2 separate regions of the Homo sapiens genome follow, and region 1 is linked to region 2. Evidence: fine-mapped expression QTL. A gene starts in region 2. The other region holds a variant in brackets. All regions are shown on one strand. Distances are between the middles of the regions. Region 1 has its middle 3.4 kb from the start of LINC03049. Region 2 holds the start of ZNF30 (zinc finger protein 30).

Region 1 (5,215 bases), 62 kb before region 2:
AGCCGATGCGATCAACTGGAAGAAAGGGTATCAGCAATGGAAGATGAAATGAATGAAATGAAGCGAGAAGGGAAGTTTAGAGAAAAAAGAATAAAAAGAAATGAGCAAAGCCTCCAAGAAATATGGGACTATGTGAAAAGACCAAATCTACGTCTGATTGGTGTACCTGAAAGTGATGGGGAGAATGGAACCAAGTTGGAAAACACTCTGCAGGATATTATCCAGGAGAACTTCCCCAATCTAGCAAGGCAGGCCAACGTTCAGATTCAGGAAATACAGAGAACGCCACAAAGATACTCCTCAAGAAGAGCAACTCCAAGACACATAATTGTCAGATTCACCAAAGTTGAAATGAAGGAAAAAATGTTAAGGGCAGCCAGAGAGAAAGGTCGGGTTACCCTCAAAGGGAAGCCCATCAGACTAACAGCGGATCTCTCAGCAGAAACCCTACAAGCCAGAAGAGAGTGGGGGCCAATATTCAACATTCTTAAAAGAATTTTCAACGCAGAATTTCATATCCAGCCAAACTAGGCTTCATAAGTGAAGGAGAAATAAAATACTTTACAGACACGCAAATGCTGAGAGATTTTGTCACCACCAGGCCTGCCTTACAAGAGCTCCTGAAGGAAGCACTAAACATGGAAAGGAACAACCAGTCCCAGCCGCTGCAAAATCATGCCAAAATGTAAAGACCATCGAGACTAGGAAGAAACTGCATCAACTAACGAGCAAAATAACCAGCTAACATCATAATGACAGGATCAAATTCACACATAATAATATTAACTTTAAATGTCAATGTACTAAATGCTCCAATTAAAAGACACAGACTGGCAAATTGGATAAAGAGTCAAGACCCATCAGTGTGCTGTATTCAGGAAACCCATCTCATGTGCAGAGTCACACATCGGCTCAAAATAAAAGGATGGAGGAAGATCTACCAAGCCAATGGAAAACAAAAAAAGGCAGGGATTGCAATCCTAGTCTCTGATAAAACAGACTTTAAACCAACAAAATTCAAAAGAGACAAAGAAGGCCATTACATAATGGTAAAGGGATCAATTCAACAAGAAGAGCTAACTATCCTAAATATATATGCACCCAGTATAGGAGCACCAAGATTCATAAAGCAAGTCCTGAGTGACCTACAAAGAGACTTAGACTCCCACACATTAATAATGGGAGACTTTAACACCCCACTGTCAACATTAGACAGATCAATGAGACAGAAAGTCAAGAAGGATACCCAGGAATTGAACTCAGCTCTGCACCAAGCAGACCTAATAGACATCTACAGAACTCTCCACCCCAAATCAACAGAATATACATTTTTTTCAGCACCACACCACACCTATTCCAAAATTGACCACATAGTTGGAAGTAAAGCTCTCCTCAGCAAATGTAAAAGAACAGAAATTATAACAAACTATCTCTCAGACCACAGTGCAATCAAACTAGAACTCAGGATTAAGAATCTCACTCAAAACCGCTCAACTACATGGAAACTGAACAACCTGCTCCTGAATGACTACTGGGTACATAATGAAATGAAGGCAGAAATAAAGATGTTCTTTGAAACCAACGAGAACAAAGACACAACATACCAGAATCTCTGGGATGCATTCAAAGCAGTGTGTAGAGGGAAATTTATAGCACTAAATGCCCACAAGAGAAAGCAGGAAAGATCCAAAATTGACACCCTAACATCACAGTTAAAAGAACTAGAAAAGCAAGAGCAAACACATTCAAAAGCTAGCAGAAGGCAAGAAATAACTAAAATCAGAGCAGAACTGAAGGAAATAGAGACACAAAAAACCCTTCAAAAAATTAATGAATCCAGGAGCTGGTTTTTTGAAAGGATGAACAAAAGTGATAGACCACTAGCAAGACTAATAAAGAAAAAAAGAGAGATGAATCAAATAGACGCAATAAAAAATGATAAAGGGGATATCACCACCGATCCCACAGAAATACAAACTACCATCAGAGAATACTACAAACACCTCTACGCAAATAAACTAGAAAATCTAGAAGAAATGGATAAATTCCTCGACACATACACTCTCCCAAGACTAAACCAGGAAGAAGTTGAATCTCTGAATAGACCAATAACAGGAGCTGAAATTGTGGCAATAATCAATAGCTTACCAACCAAAAAGAGTCCGGGACCAGATGGATTCACAGCCGAATTCTACCAGAGGTACAAGGAGGAACTGGTACCATTCCTTCTGAAACTATTCCAATCAATAGAAAAAGAGGAAATCCTCCCTAACTCATTTTATGAGGCCAGCATCATTCTGATACCAAAGCCTGGCAGAGACACAATCAAAAAAGAGAATTTTAGACCAATATCCTTGATGAACACTGATGCAAAAATCCTCAATAAAATACTGGCAAAACGAATCCAGCAGCACATC[A/G]AAAAGCTTATCCACCATGATCAAGTGGGCTTCATCCCTGGGATGCAAGGCTGGTTCAATATACGCAAATCAATAAATATAATCCAGCATATAAACAGAGCCAAAGACAAAAACCACATGATTATCTCAATAGATGCAGAAAAAGCCTTTGACAAAATTCAACAACCCTTCATGCTAAAAACTCTCAATAAATTAGGTATTGATGGGACGTATTCCAAAATAATAAGAGCTATCTATGACAAACCCACAGCCAATATCATACTGAATGGGCAAAAACTGGAAGCATTCCCTTTGAAAACTGGCACAAGACAGGGATGCTCTCTCTCACCACTCCTATTCAACATAGTGTTGGAAGTTCTGGCCAGGGCAATTAGGCAGGAGAAGGAAATAAAGGGTATTCAATTAGGAAAAGAGGAAGTCAAATTGTCCCTGTTTGCAGACGACATGATTGTATATCTAGAAAACCCCATTGTCTCAGCCCAAAATCTCCTTAAGCTGATAAGCAACTTCAGTAAAGTCTCAGGATACAAAATCAATGTACAAAAATCACAAGCATTCTTATACACCAACAACAGACAAACAGAGAGCCAAATCATGAGTGAACTCCCATTCACAATTGCTTCAAAGAGAATAAAATACCTAGGAATCCAACTTACAAGGGATGTGAAGGACCTCTTCAAGGAGAACTACAAACCACTGCTCAAGGAAATAAAAGAGGATACAAACAAACGGAAGAACATTCCATGCTCATGGGTAGGAAGAATCAATATCGTGAAAATGGCCATATTGCCCAAGGTAATTTACAGATTCAATGCCATCCCCATCAAGCTACCAATGACTTTCTTCACAGAATTGGAAAAAACTACTTTAAAGTTCATATGGAACCAAAAAAGAGCCCGCATCGCCAAGTCAATCCTAAGCCAAAAGAACAAAGCTGGAGGCATCACACTACCTGACTTCAAACTATACTACAAGGCTACAGTAACCAAAACAGCATGGTACTGGTACCAAAACAGAGATATAGATCAATGGAACAGAACAGAGCCCTCAGAAATAACGCCGCATATCTACAACTACCTGATCTTTGACAAACCTGAGAAAAACAAGCAATGGGGAAAGGATTCCCTATTTAATAAATGGTGCTGGAAAAACTGGCTAGCCATATGTAGAAAGCTGAAACTGGATCCCTTCCTTACACCTTATACAAAAATCAATTCAAGATGGATTAAAGACTTAAACGTTAGACCTAAAACCATAAAAACCCTAGAAGAAAACCTAGGCATTACCATTCAGGACATAGGCATGGGCAAGGACTTCATGTCTAAAACACCAAAAGCAATGGCAACAAAAGCCAAAATTGACAAATGGGATCTAATTAAACTAAAGATCTTCTGCACAGCAAAAGAAACTACCATCACAGTGAACAGGCAACCTACAAAATGGGAGAAAATTTTCGCAACCTACTCATCTGACAAAGGGCTAATATCCAGAATCTACAATGAACTCAAACAAATTTACAAGAAAAAAAACAAACAACCCCATCAAAAAGTGGGCGAAGGACATGAACAGACACTTCTCAAAAGAAGACATTTATGCAGCCAAAAAACCCAGGAAAATATGCTCATCATCACTAGCCATCAGAGAAATGCAAATCAAAACCACAATGAGATACCATCTCACACCAGTTAGAATGGCAATCATTAAAAAGTCAGGAAACAACAGGTGCTGGAGAGGATGTGGAGAAATAGGAACACTTTTACACTGTTGGTGGGACTGTAAACTAGTTCAACCATTGTGGAAGTCAGTGTGGCCATTCCTCAGGGATCTAGAACTAGAAATACCATTTGACCCAGCCATCCCATTACTGGATATATACCCAAAGGACTATAAATCATACTATTATAAAGACACATGCACATGTATGTTTATTGCGGCACTATTCACAATAGCAAAGACTTGGAACCAACCCAAATGTCCAACAATGATAGACTGGATTAAGAAAATGTGGCACATATACACCATGGAATACTATGCAGCCATAAAAAATGATGAGTTCATGTCCTTTGTAGGGACATGGATGAAACTGGAAACCATCATTCTCAGCAAACTATCGCAAGGACAAAACACCAAACACCGCATGTTCTCACTCATAGGTGGGAATTGAACAATGAGAACACATGGACACAGGAAGGGGAACATCACACTCCGGGGACTGTTGTGGGGTAGGGGGAGGGGGGAGGGATAGCATTAGGAGATATACCTAATGCTAAATGACGAGTTAATGGGTGCAGTACACCAACATGTCACATGTATACATATGTAACAAACCTGCACATTGTGCACATGTACCCTAAAACGTAAAGTATAATAACAAAAAAAAAGACAGGTGTAAGAAATTATAAAAGTATTAATTTTGGGAACTGATAAATGTCCATGAAATCTTCACAATTTATGTTCCTCTGCTGCAGTTCCAGCCAGTCCCTCCATTCGGGGTCCCTGACTTCCCACAACAACACACTTCATGGGGGGACATAGGGTGAACTACTACACTTCACCAACCAGCCAGGACACATTCCACACATCAAGCTCTGAGAGGGATGGCAGATGGTCATCCTCCAGGTCCAGAGCTATGCCCACTGGCAGGACATCACCAGGCACCGCATGGAGGTGATCAGCAACTTTTCCCAGCAGCACTTCCTCGGGGAGGTGGATTACCTTGTGTGTGCAGATGTGGACATGAAGTTCAACAACCATGTGGGTGTGGAGATCCTCTCTTCCCTGTTTGCCACCATCCATCC
Region 2 (5,215 bases):
GTATGGAACTTAGACGAAATATATTTCAGGAAATGCAGTGAGAAACATTATAAGGGGGAAAGTTCTGCTCTCCTAGATTAGAACATCACTGACAGTGGCCAGAGAAAGTTTCCTGAGGGATCAGGGACTGTCATTTTCCACTGGATGCTCAGATTCCAGCTGTAGGGTTTGTGAGTATCCTTCCTCCCTCTTCCATGAGACAGCCTCATCTGAAATCTCCAATTTACCTCTGACGATTAAACACCTAGACCCTCACTATAGTCACACAAGTCTTCACTCAAAACACAAGGGCATAGCAGTAAGATTGCGATCCTTAGCTGTCATCTATGGAGTGATCACTTTTGAGGGGCACTTTTTGAATAAATCATTTCAAAATCATTTCAAAAATTTTCTCAAAAAAAAAACCCTATGATTTAAAAATTTCTTTGACATTCTAAGTATTCTACTAATCTATTTTATTTCTACCCACCATGGAACCCACATTTCCCTCTGCAAAATACAAATTTCTATTGTATTCACCCCTCACCCCTGAACATAAATTTATCCTCCCAAACAAATTTCTGCCCAGATGACATTTTGACGGCTATTTACACATCCCCATCTCAGAGAGCACATTGTACATAATTTGGCCCTTAATGCAGCCTCTATGAAAAGTCCTTTAATCAGGGGACTAGATGAGTCCTTATTTGTCTTGAATGTCTCTAGTTCCTCCAGGACAGAAGTGATCAGTGACCACAGCCAGTTCAGGAATCACAGGATATTGCAAATTTGTCTCCGATTGACATGAATTGGGTGGATTCTCACTCCAGGTCTATCACCTTCTTATTTGTTAATGAAATATTTGTCTTCAGACATTGTAATAGATACCCAATGAGTTTCAGAGGGTTTGAAAATGAACACTTTAGACATGAATAGCCTATATGGTGAACTTACAGAGGCAAAGCGACTGGTCAACAAACAGCTGCTCTACCAAAAAAGCCTGGAGTTACAAAGCAGATGAACATTTTTGCAGAGCTGGAAACTAATTCCAATAAGGCTAAAAACTTGCTACTGCTGGTAGGGAAAATCCTAACTATTGACAGTCAAATGCTTTTGATGCGAGGCTACTTAGGTTGATGTTGATAAGAGAAAAGTTCCCTTGTCCCCCTGGCAGGGCGTGCGATGGGGGTGTGGCTCGCTTCTTCAGTGTCCCGCTGCTCAAACCTCCAGGGGAGTATACAGACGGGCGGGCTGTGGGGCTCTGACCCCATGGCAGTGTCTAGGGGTGAATGTTTATAGCTGAAGCCCCAGTGGGCGTGTTACAGGATGCTCTTTAGCTGTCCGCAGGCGGCTTATGTTAGTCAATTCAATTAGATCCCTGCGTTATCGCAAGGACAGAGGGCTTTCATATCCCGGGGTTCCTGTCTTGGTGTACCAGAAGAATCAGATCACACATGGGCTTGGAGGATGACTGCAGGGTTTTGAGTGGAAGTAGCTCTCAACAGTTGGGGGAGCCAGAAGGGAAATGGTTTTCCCCTGGAATCGGGCTGCTCCGCAGCACCGGCTCTCCTTGGACTGCCCCAGCCAAACTCCGCGTCCTTCTGGTGGGTGGCCTGCCCGCGTGCCAGCGTCTGTCATGTCTTCTTCCGCCAACATGTTCCTCTGGATGTCCAGCGGCTTGTGTGTCTGCTTGCTAGGGTCTCAGAGTATTTATAGGGACAGGATGGGGGCGGGAACAGGATGGGGGCGTGGCAGGCCAGGGTGGTCTTGGGAAACGCAACATTTGGGCAGGAAAACAAAAATGCCTGCCCTCACCTAGGTCAGTTGGCACAGGGCCAGGGGTGGAGCCCTAGCCAGGGACCACACCCTCCTGTACCCAGCACCTCCCTTTCCCCCTTCCATATCATTTAAAGGGACCCCGCCCTTCCCTCCCCAGCACTCCCCTTCCCCACCTCCTTATCAATGTCATCACCCTGGACTGACTCCAGGAATCACTGTAATGTGGGCTTAATAAGAACAGAGCTCGGCTGGCCGCGGTGGCTCACCCTGTCATCCCAGCACTTTGGGAGGCTGAGGCGGGTGGATCGCTTGAGCCCAGGAGTTCGAGACTAGCCTGGGCAAGATGGCAAAACCCCATTTCTACAAAAAATATACAAAAATTAGCCAGGTGTAGTGGCGCGCCCCTGTAGTCTCAGCTACTCTGGAGGCCGAGGTGGGAGAATCACTTGAACCTGGGAGGCAGAGGTTACAGTAAGCCGAGATAGCGCCACTGCATTCCAGTCTGAGCGACAGAGGGAGACCCTGTCTCAAAACAAAACAAAAACAAAACAAACAAAAAGCGGAGCTGACAGTCAAGGTGAATTTCACGTTTGCCTGTATTCAGTTTTAGCATTACATAAACCAAAAGAAGAATGCCATAAAGGCTACAGGCAGCTAATACAGAGAGGTGTTACTGGAAAAGGAACCAGAAAGAGTAAATATCTCCTAAACGTATGATGGGACAGAAAGATAAATGCCTATTACATATAGTTAATATCTGTTTGATTAGCCTTATTTACATTCTCCTTTTAAAAGGTCTTACATTTAGCATCTTAGATAGAACCCACAAAATTTAAATATTTAATAGAAACTTAAAATTCCTGTATCAGAGGACAGAAATATATTTTTCTCACACGTGATTAGTCTAATTGCCACTATTAATCCTATTAATATTCTGTTAAATAATAGCATTTCTGTAGCGAAAAGCAAACAGTACGGAAAGATAATTTCAAACACCTAGTTTTCATATTTTTGTGTTAAAGTAATAACATATTTTGGTATAGATTATCATTTTTTGTTTGTTTTTGTTTTTGCTTTTTCTGACCTGGTGTGTTAATGCCCTGGGTTGGCCCTCTAAGAAGCTGGCCACCTACTTCGGGCCTCAGGTGTCAGACGCCCCAGCTTCGAGGTCTATGGCTCCCAGCAACTCGAGCGCCTGCGCCTGCGCATTCTCAGCCGGACGGGAGCGCCCAGAAGTCTCCGGGCGCCGGTGGGCGGCCTTGTGGACTGCGCCGGGCATGCTCGGCGGTGTGACGGCTCAGGACTGCATTTCCCAGAGGCTGCAGCTATCCGGCCAATGTAGCCTGAAACTACATTTCTCAGCGGCCACTGGAACGACCTCAATCTCTGCCTCCTCGCCAGTTCATTGTGGTCGTTGACCCGGCAGCGAGCTTTGGAGTTCATCGAGGGAGAAGTCAGCGCCCAGCTCCGAGGTTGGAGCAGCCCCGCCGGGCAACTTGAATTTCTGCAAACGAACACAGCACCGGGAGCTCTGCAGACCTGTGTCGGCGCGGAACCCGGACTGAGACATGCGTGAGCGTTGGGTGGACCGGGCGAGGATCCCGGGCCGGCGAGTGCGGGAGCGGCAGGGCAGGGAGGGTGCGTCGGCCGGGGCCGGTGTGCATCCGCGAAGACTGGGTGCATGGCCTCCATGCGAACCTGAGCTATTAATATTTGTTACTATTTTGGATAAAATCACTGTAATTGATTTATGTAAAGGAGCAAAAGACTCTTCAACTCTCAGTTTAAAAAGGAAACGATAGTTATGATACCTTTTGCATGCAGCGGGAAGAAATGGGATTGCCAGGAAGCCTCTTCTTGTTTGGAAAAAACTGTATAAAGTATTTACACCTTTTAAAGATGAGAGCAATGTCATCTGAAAATTATCAGTGCAGGGAAAAGGACTTCAAAGGATCTGTTGTGCAGATTACTTAACTAATGACAAAATTATGTAAGAAAGGAGAGCAAGATGACAGCTGTAAACATTTCCATCAATCTCCATATTGCACAGAAATAGGACCCAGCTTTTTCTTAAGGTTCTTCAATTTTGCATTATCCCACAGCAGTAGCTCTCTCTCTCTAGCTGCTAGGGGACAGAGGAAATTGAAATGTCAGAGAATCTTTTCTGTTGGTTTTTTATTTGTTTGTTTTTAAAGAAGAGTTGCTCTTAATTTTTTAGTTAGAATTAAAAGAAAGCATGCCAGAGAAACTTACGTTTTAAGTAAAAAGTGGAAACAGGTCGGGTGCCATGGCTCATGCCTGTAATCCCAGCACTTTGGGAAGCTGAGGCGGGTGGATTGCCTGAGCTCAGGAGTTCGAGACCACCAACATGGCAACATGGTGAAACCCCGTCTCTACTAAAAATATAAAAATTAGCCAGGCATGGTGGCGTGCGCTTGTAGTCACAGCTACTTGAGAGGCGGAGGTGGGAGAAGTGCTTGAAGCTGGGAGGCGGCGGAGGTTGCAGTGAGTGGAGATGGCACCACCGCAATCCAGCCTGGGCGACAGAGCGAGATCCCTTCTCTAAAAAAAAAAAAATATATATATATATATATATATATATATATATATAGATAGATAGATAGATAGATACATAAATTAAATTAAGTGGAAACAAGTGTTTAATTAAAATGAAATAAAGGATGTATAATGTTTACGTAATAACTCCAATGCAGTAGTGCCCCCTTAATCGGCAGTTTCACTTTCTTCACTTTGTTACCCTCAGTCAACCATGATCTGAAAATAGGTGATTTTGGTACAATAAGATATTTTGAGAGAGAGGGGCCATGTTCACATAACTTTTATTACAGTATGCTATTATAGTTGTTCTATTTTATTATTAGTTATTGCTATTACTCAATTATGGTGGCCGGGTGCGGTGGCTCACGCCTGTAATCCCAGCACTTTGGGATACTGAGATGGGTGGATCAATTGAGGTCAGGAGTTCGAGACCAGCCTGGCCAACATGGTGAAACCCTGTCTCTAGTAAAAATACAAAAATTAGCCAGGCGTGGTGGTGGGCACCTGTAATCCCAGCTACTTGGGAGGCTCCCAGGAGGTGGAGGTTGCAGTGAGCCAAGATCACACCACTGCACTCCAGCCTGGGCAACAGAGTGAGACCCTGTCTCAAACAAACAAACAAACAGAAAAATAAAAATCTCTTATGGTGCCTAATTTATAAATTAAACTTAATCATAGGTGTGTATGTATAAGAAAAAACATAGTATATATGGGGTTCCGTCAGACATCTACTGAGGATCTTAGAGTGTATCTCCCCCCTGTGGATAAGAGGGAGCTACCATAGTAAGAGCTAACTCGGCTGCGCGCGGTGGCTCACGCCTGTAATCCCAGCACTTTGGGAGGCTGAGGCGGGCGGATCACGAAGTCAGGAGATGGAGACCATCCTGGCCAACATGGT

What was found. PIP is the estimated chance that this variant, and not a neighbour inherited with it, causes the effect.
Region 1: its variant is the best candidate, but not a certain one, in a credible set for the expression of ZNF30 in whole blood (TOPMed, PIP 0.50).

Annotation. Positions count from the first base shown.
Region 1 is chr19:34,861,419-34,866,633 of GRCh38, forward strand. It overlaps the pseudogene LOC401913. Among named protein-coding and RNA genes, the nearest start is that of LINC03049, 3.4 kb to the left of the region's middle. The variant A/G (reference allele first, on the strand shown) is at 2,418.
Region 2 is chr19:34,923,887-34,929,101 of GRCh38, forward strand. It overlaps ZNF30 (zinc finger protein 30), which reads left to right and starts at 3,017. Exons shown (of 5, transcript NM_194325.3): 1 at 3,017-3,330. It overlaps ZNF30-AS1 (ZNF30 antisense RNA 1), which reads right to left and starts at 2,940. Exons shown (of 3, transcript NR_110749.1): 1 at 2,843-2,940.